2 linked regions of the Homo sapiens genome follow. The protein of the gene in region 1 purifies or fractionates together with the protein of each later gene. This does not show direct contact. Each region holds a gene or a part of one and is shown in the gene's direction. Other genes may lie near its edges.

What was found. Proteins that work in one complex are often made in the same cells at the same time.
Region 2: the proteins of ANTXR2 (region 1) and HS1BP3 purify together in Homo sapiens (affinity purification with mass spectrometry; 2 studies listed by BioGRID and IntAct, with this or other methods). This does not show direct contact.

What each region holds. Positions count from the first base shown.
Region 1 is NC_000004.12:80,071,203-80,074,949, reverse strand, and holds the start of ANTXR2 (anthrax toxin receptor 2 isoform 1 precursor), read left to right. Parts: upstream 1-1,720; 5' UTR 1,721-2,389; coding exon 2,390-2,541; intron 2,542-3,295; coding exon 3,296-3,367; intron 3,368-3,747.
Region 2 is NC_000002.12:20,623,371-20,627,117, reverse strand, and holds part of HS1BP3 (HCLS1-binding protein 3), read left to right. Parts: intron 1-2,225; coding exon 2,226-2,386; intron 2,387-3,086; coding exon 3,087-3,222; intron 3,223-3,747. UniProt on the Homo sapiens protein: May be a modulator of IL-2 signaling.

The sequences.
Region 1 (3,747 bases):
TGTGGAAACTTAACCCACCTGCTTCAGAAATATGCATAGTTCATGTACCCCTTGCTTCAGAAATATTCATAGTTCCTCCTATAACCTGTTGAATATGTATACTTGGCCAACTCATTTAGCATAAATTCCTGTTCCACCCTTTCCTCCCTCAAAGTGCCTGCTTTTTGTCTCTGCCAGAGGCTACACTTCCCAGCCTGTCAAGATGTCCAGCCTGCAGCTGTAACCCTTTATAAGAAATGAAGTTCTCCTTTCCAAATTTATGAACCTCAGGATTGTTTGTCAACATGTTGCTACTGCAATAGTCTCCTAACTGCTCTCCCTGTTGTCACTGTTGCTAACTCCAAATTCATTGTCTCATTGCAGCCAGAATGATCTTTGAAAAACACAGATCATATCAATTCATCTGCCACTCCACTCCTGGGCTTAAACCCCTCTAATAACCTCCTGTCACACTCAATATTAAATATCTGAATTCCTTATCTCAGTAAACAAAGCATCACATAATCTGGCCCTTGCCTATTTGTCTTACATCATCTTACCTGCAAAGCTCCAGCTACACAGTTTTTTTTTTTTCTTTTTTGAATATGCTAAGCTAATGTCTATGGACCTTTGCAGTAACTCCAAATGTTTCCCCTTAGAGCTCTTGGAATGACTGGGTCTTTTTTGTTAGTCACTGAGTCTGTCATTCTTTATCATCACAATATTTTAAATTTCTACAGGCCACCTTTCCAATATGGACATTTTTTTTCCTTGCTTATGTATTTATTTCTTATTGTCTGTTTTCACTCTTCAGCCAGACTGTCAGCTTCATGAAAGCAAGGGCTTGTTATCTTGTTCTGTGCACTAACCTCCACTTCTGGAACAGTGCCTAGCAAATAATAGGCACTCAATGAATCTTTGTTAAAGTAACTAATTTTTATCTTCAAAGAGCTGACATATCTGGTTGTATATCAAATATAATAAATGAAAAGTTAAATACATATGGCAACAAACAGAAGAGATGTATATGTAAGTACTACATAAAGCATTGATTTTGTTAAAAATGAAAAGGTATTTAGGTTCTAAAAGCCAGTTTTGACTAAGGGAGGGCGGAAGTCACGGAGGTGGGGGGAAGAGAGAGGAGGGAGAGCAGAACTAGTAGACAGAGGATTTGTGCACAAACTTGAGTGCTTGCACAAGTTTTGCAAAGGAGACCTAGCTTGCCCAAAGCTGAAATTCTCCAAAACTGGAGCTTGCAGGGAAATGACAGTGGGCTGAAATATTTTGAGGTACAACTTTCCACTCCCAAAGAGGCCTGCTATCCCCTCCCACTCCCCACTCCGGCCTTTCCTTGGCTTGGCTTTTTTTAAAGAAAAAAAAAAAAAAAACTAAGCAGGTTTCTTTAGAAGAAAAAGAGGAAGTTCATAAAGAGTGTTTGTGGTAGTAGGGGTGGGGTGGAGTGAGGAGTGAGGAGGCCGTCACCTCCCATGGAATCCTTAGTCTTGGGTTTGTGAACCACGCATGGGGGCTGTTTTAGCACAGCTGCTAAAATAGGCCAGGCCTGCAGGACATACGGGTATGTTTAGTTTCTAGATAACTTTTGTTTTTCTAAACTCCTTCTTCCCTTTCCCAAATCTGGCAAGCGTTAGTCATCTTCAACTCGGCAGGAACCCACAAGTGTGCATGTGTGGCTCGGAGGCTTCAGCTGGGGCCCCGCCCTCGTCCCCAGGCGCACACTGACACACGCAGCCCAGACCCGGCCCGAGCGGGCTCCTGCCCTCGGCGTGGCTTCTCTCCAGCCGGGAGTCCCAGGGCCAGCTAGCCTCCTCCCCTAAAGGGGACGGCCTGTCAGCGCAGTGCCAGAGTCCAGCACCGGGAGGAAAGTTTCGGAGTGCGGAGGGAGTTGGGGCCGCCGGAGGAGAAGAGTCTCCACTCCTAGTTTGTTCTGCCGTCGCCGCGTCCCAGGGACCCCTTGTCCCGAAGCGCACGGCAGCGGGGGGGACTTCAGCCCTCCAGGCGGGGTGGGTTCCAGGTCCGGGTCCGAGGCGGGCGCTGGAGGCTCGGCCCCAGGCCGGAGAGGAACTCCTTTCGCGAGCTGTCGCCGTGGGCCCGCATTGTCTGCAGGAACTCTCCGGAATCGGGAGGGGGAGGACTGGATCGCGCTTCCACTGGGATTCGTCAAGAGTTCCGGCGGCAGCTGCGGCGGTGGCGGAGACTCCCTTTGTCCTCTCAGGACCTCCCTCTCTCCCTCCCTGTCAGCTGGTGGGTCCCGCTGCCGCAGGCGCCGGCGTCTCAGCTGCTCGCCGCCCCCCACCCCAGAGTGCGTGCCGGGTGACTCCCGCCACCTTTGCGACCCTCCTGAGCTTAGGGGACTGCGAGCGGGAGGGAGTCTCAGGCCCCCGGCCGCAGGATGGTGGCGGAGCGGTCCCCGGCCCGCAGCCCCGGGAGCTGGCTGTTCCCCGGGCTGTGGCTGTTGGTGCTCAGCGGTCCCGGGGGGCTGCTGCGCGCCCAGGAGCAGCCCTCCTGCAGAAGAGCCTTTGATCTCTACTTCGTCCTGGACAAGTGAGTGTGCGAGGGAGGTCCAGGGTCTCCTGGTGAGGGCGGCACTGGATCAGCTGGGGCTGAGGCTGAGATGCGTGTGCGCACCCCGGGGAGTGGTGTTGGAAACCCGCGGAGGGGTGCCCTGTTGCTGTCTTCTTTCAAAGGGCAAGCGCGTTCGGATCTGTGTGGGCGGAGATCAGCCGGGTCGGGGGTAGTGATTGGAGCCCCGGGCTACTTGGCTCTTTGGGGAGTTGGGGTATTCACTGTTTGCCAGTCTTTTGGCCTCTTGGGAAATGGGAGTGTGGCCTCTTGCGGGCCACGCTCCATCGGCCACAGAGTCCTTACCCACCTCCTCGACCCTGCTCGTACGCAGGCTAAAGTTTGCCTGGTTTTATCCTAATCATAGCGCTTTCATTGGAGCCAGGAAAAGCCTAGGGTTAACATGCCCAATGTGGTTTGCATTTCCTGCGAAGAAAGGCTTTTGTGTTTACTCTGAAGAGCTGGGTTCCACTCTAAACAATTAGGCAGGTATTTACCCACCCCAGAAAACGGGCTGACTTCTTCTTCTTCTTTTTTTTTTTGACGGAGTCTTGCTCTGGGACTGACTTCTTTAACTCTGGGTACCACCAAAGTTTCAGCTACAGATACCCTTACTTAGCTTGAAAAAGAGGCCAGGTGCCCCTATGTTCGTGGCATTGAAGAAGGAACCATTTCAAAATGTTTACTTTTCAGTTCCGTGTTTTGTTTCTCTGATCAGTTCAATTTCATCTTTCAGGTCTGGGAGTGTGGCAAATAACTGGATTGAAATTTATAATTTCGTACAGCAACTTGCGGAGAGATTTGTGAGGTATCTTTCTTACTTTACTTTTCTAGGCAGTGGAGAAGTAGAGCAAAGTGTAGAATTTCCCTTTTCTGAAACCTTTTATAGGAAAAACTTTTCCTGAAATGTTACTTTTAAGTGCCTCAAGGTCGTATTGCACACATGCTGTTATTAGGACAGCCCTTCAGTCCTTGAGGGCTTATTTCATCTGGATCCCAGAAACTTGGCTCAGACTCTGGGGAAGCATCTTCAAATACTATTCCAAATGTCTTTTTCTTTCCGAATTTTCATCTGTTTTGAATTTCAGTTATGCTTTCTCATAATTTATCACATTAAAAAAATAAATTTTATGCGAATAGTATCCATAATATATTTTTCTTTCCACACATTTCTTAGCATTATAGAGG
Region 2 (3,747 bases), on another chromosome or scaffold:
TGGGGAATGAAGGGGAGAGAAGCATCGGGCAGAACAGTGGCTGCGAGCCTGGCTGACCGTGGAATTCCACAGGAGACTGAACACAGCCTCCTGGGCCTGCTTGGGGTTTCCGACTCAGTGGGTCTTGGCTGGGGTCAGCTTTGCTGTCTGCCCCAGGAGGCCATGGCCCTTGTTTGGTACCCACTTCCTAGGAGTCATGAGAGCCGAGCTGGCTCTGCCTGATTGGTAAGAATAAAGGGGAGAATGTCTGAGTAAGAGCAGGCGAGCCCTGGCTCCTCCAGGTCTCAGAGGAGCAGAAGCTGAAGATTTCTGGAAAGCACTTGCCCTTAGGGTGGAGAATCGAGGCTCCCTCCACCTCACCTCCAGCACCACAAGCAGGGCCTGAGGGTGGTGCACAGCAGAGGAGGTCCCTCATGGCCTGAGCTGGGTGGAGAAAGCACAGGACCAGGCAGATGGGCCTTCTTGGAGCAGTCCCTGCCACTGCGTCTCTGCTCCCCATCACTACCCTTGAAACATGCCACTTTCTCCCCAGAGAACAGCAGGATCAATCCTGTTATCCCTGCGCCATCCTATATCACCTTCCTCATGGGACATTTGGAGGGGACAAGAGGATAGGACCATGAGTATGACCATCCTCAATCTAGACCCAGCCTGCCTGTCCCTTCCCTGCTGTGTGGCCTTGGGCAGACACTCAGCTTCTCTGGACCACTGTTTCCTCATCCAACAAACGAGCCCTGCAGAGATCCTTCCCCTGGGACTGGGCTCTGAGCTCAGAGGATGCTCTGTCCTGCAGCCTTCCAGCAGGGAACCTTCCAGCAGGGAGCCTTCCTGGCTTTCATAGTTTCTCCTCGCCTCGGCTGGGTGCCTGGGATTCTGCCAGACCTCAGACTCCAGACTGTGGGAATGGTCACCTTGCGGGGACCTGCCCCTCCAGCACCCAGGGCCATTCTGCTATTTTTATCTGCCATTGGTTAATCTGTATCATTGTGTAGGCCAGCCTCTCGGTGCAGTTTTGCCGCAGCGTGTTACCAACATGAGCTCAGATGGTGACCTCACATAGTGACCTCAGTCCAGTGGAACTGCCCGCCAGGCGGACAGGCACACGGAATTTCAGTTTCCAGTAAAGAGCATATTCTCATTATTTTCAGGAACCTTAAAATGGCTAATAGACATCATCAGCAGGGATTGAATGCCTGTTAAAGTAATTATTAAAGTAAAATCAAGTGTGTTTACTTACTGGCGGTATCACTTACAGTGACGTACACAGATCCTGAGCATTCAGCTCCATGCGTGTTTACTTATCCAGCCCGTAACTACCGCCTGGATCAAAACTAAAGTACTCCTACACCCCAGAAGCTTCCATCCTGCCCCGTCCTGGTTTCTTACAGCAGGGTCTGGCCCAGAGCAGGACCTCCTCAGCCAGTCGGCAAGTGCACTGTAATGGGACCTGGGGTGGCAGAGTCGGAGCCGGGGAGGTGGGCAAGTCCCAGAGAGGCTTCCTGAAAGAGGGGGGCTGCTCCACAGAACCCAAGTGTTAACTAGAACAATGGTGGTTTTACCATGCAAAGGAAACAATAAGGCACTTACCAAAGCTGCTTTCTGCCCTCCTGAGTCCTAGCCCTGAGGTTTGTGGCTCAAGACCAGGTCCATCCCCATTTCTGAGTGGCTGTGGAGTGTGGTTCTCTGAGCCTGGCCCCCAAGTGCTGAGACCCTGAGACCAGGCAGCTGTCTCTACCTTCCGAATGGGAGTGTGATCTCTGGCCTGTGACCGCATGGCAGACTCAAGGCCTGAAGGCGTCTAAGAGCTGGGGTTGTCTGGCAGCTGGTGCCCGGTCCTGGCAGCCGCCTGCTCCTCCTGACAGTGGTCATTTCTTGAACACAGGGCACAGCTGCCCACAGTAGCGGGGGCCTTACCACTCTGTCATTGGGGAAACCTGCTTCTCAACCACCTTCGCTGGCCTGCTTTTCTCCCCTGGGATGGAGGACCTGTCCTTCCCTTGGCCGTGTGACCATCTGTTAGAGATTTCAGAAAGACTTCAGCTCCACCTGCCTGGACTGCTCTGGGTGGCCCCCTCCAGGACTTCCCTGGTCCCTCTGGCCTGGTCTTTTCTGGCCCATGGCATCCAGCCCCTCCACTGCAGGGCCCAGCGCCTGTGTCGGTCTGACCGGACCACCTGGACACTTGTGGGAAATCCTCACCTTGTGCTTTGTCTGTGATTCTCCAGCTCCAAGAAGCCCAAGAAACATCCCAAAGTGGCCGTGAAAGCCAAGCCCTCGCCCCGGCTCACCATCTTTGACGAGGAGGTGGACCCTGATGAGGGGCTCTTTGGCCCGGGCAGGAAGCTGTCTCCACAGGACCCCTCGGAGGACGTGTCATCCGTGGACCGTAAGTAGAGCCCCATGGTCTGCTCCTGGTGTCCTCTCGGTGCCCAGCCCCATCACCAGGCAGGGTCTGGACTCACCCGGCGTGAATAGGACCCATATATCTCCCCTGTCCTGTTTAGATGTGATATAGACTCAGCTTTGTGCTTCCATGACATCTGTGGGCAGATGTGGGCCCTGGGCTTCCAGGCACTGTTTGTGTGGTAAGCGATAGGGCCTGCCTAGGGCACATGTGTGACTGTAGGTTTGGATTTAATGGGACTCTGTGTCGCCTGCATGGACTCTGCTGGAGGGCTCTGTGCAGAGTTGGCAGAGGGAAAACCGAGCGGCCTTGGGACATCTCCACTCATCCCTTGGTCCCTTTCCTCACATGCCCAGGTCGTCCTCCGGTGAGGGGAATTGATGCCACCCACTAATTCAGCCCATACTTGGTGAGCCCTCACTGAGGGCCAGGCCCAAGAACATGCTGAGGAGTGAGACCTAGTCCCTGTCCCTAGTCCCTATCCCGAGGGCCCCGGGGGCCCCTGGGGAGACAGGTCATTGCCTGACAGTTACAAAGCAGCACCAGTTATGACAGGTTGAGCAGAGGCATCAATTCCTGTAGGACTGCCCAGAAGACTTCCTGGGGTGGGGCAGAGAGAGAGCAGCCATGGCATCCCAGCCTAGAGGCTTCCTCTGACCCCCCTGCTGCTGCCTTCCCACAGCCCTGAAGCTATTTGATGATCCTGACCTCGGCGGGGCCATCCCCCTGGGTGACTCCCTCCTGCTGCCAGCCGCCTGTGAGAGTGGAGGGCCCACACCCAGCCTCAGCCACAGGGACGCCTCCAAGGAACTGTTCAGGTACCACCTGTCCCCAGCGGCGCTTGGCCAGCTCTGAGAGTGTTCTGGACAGAGCCAAGGGCCCGGCTCATTGCCCAGTCTCAGCCCCAGCCTCCTCTGAGGGGAGGACCCCAGGCCTGTGAAAAGTAGAAGCCTGTGGGTGCACATTGGGTGAGAGGCGGTGAAGGGGGCTGAGGGGGAGGATCCGCAGCCCAGGGCTGCTCAGCTAGTTCCAGAAAGAGAGAACTTTGTGTGCACAACCAGTCTTTCTTTTCACAATCATATTTTAACAGTTTATGTAAAGAATAATTAAATTATATAATTGCAAGAGCAGGTATAACTGGCATAAGCAAGTTTGGGAACAAATTAAACGGACTCATGGCAGCATGCAGCCCACCCAGCGAGGGGGCAAAGTGCAGATGTCTTGGTGATGGCCTCTCTGCCGGAGGGCCCGGTCGGCAGCTTTCACAGAAGGAAGGGAGAATGAGGCCTCAGCTGTCACATGGAGGTCAATTGGCAGAACCTGTGCCGGTGACAGCTCCTATT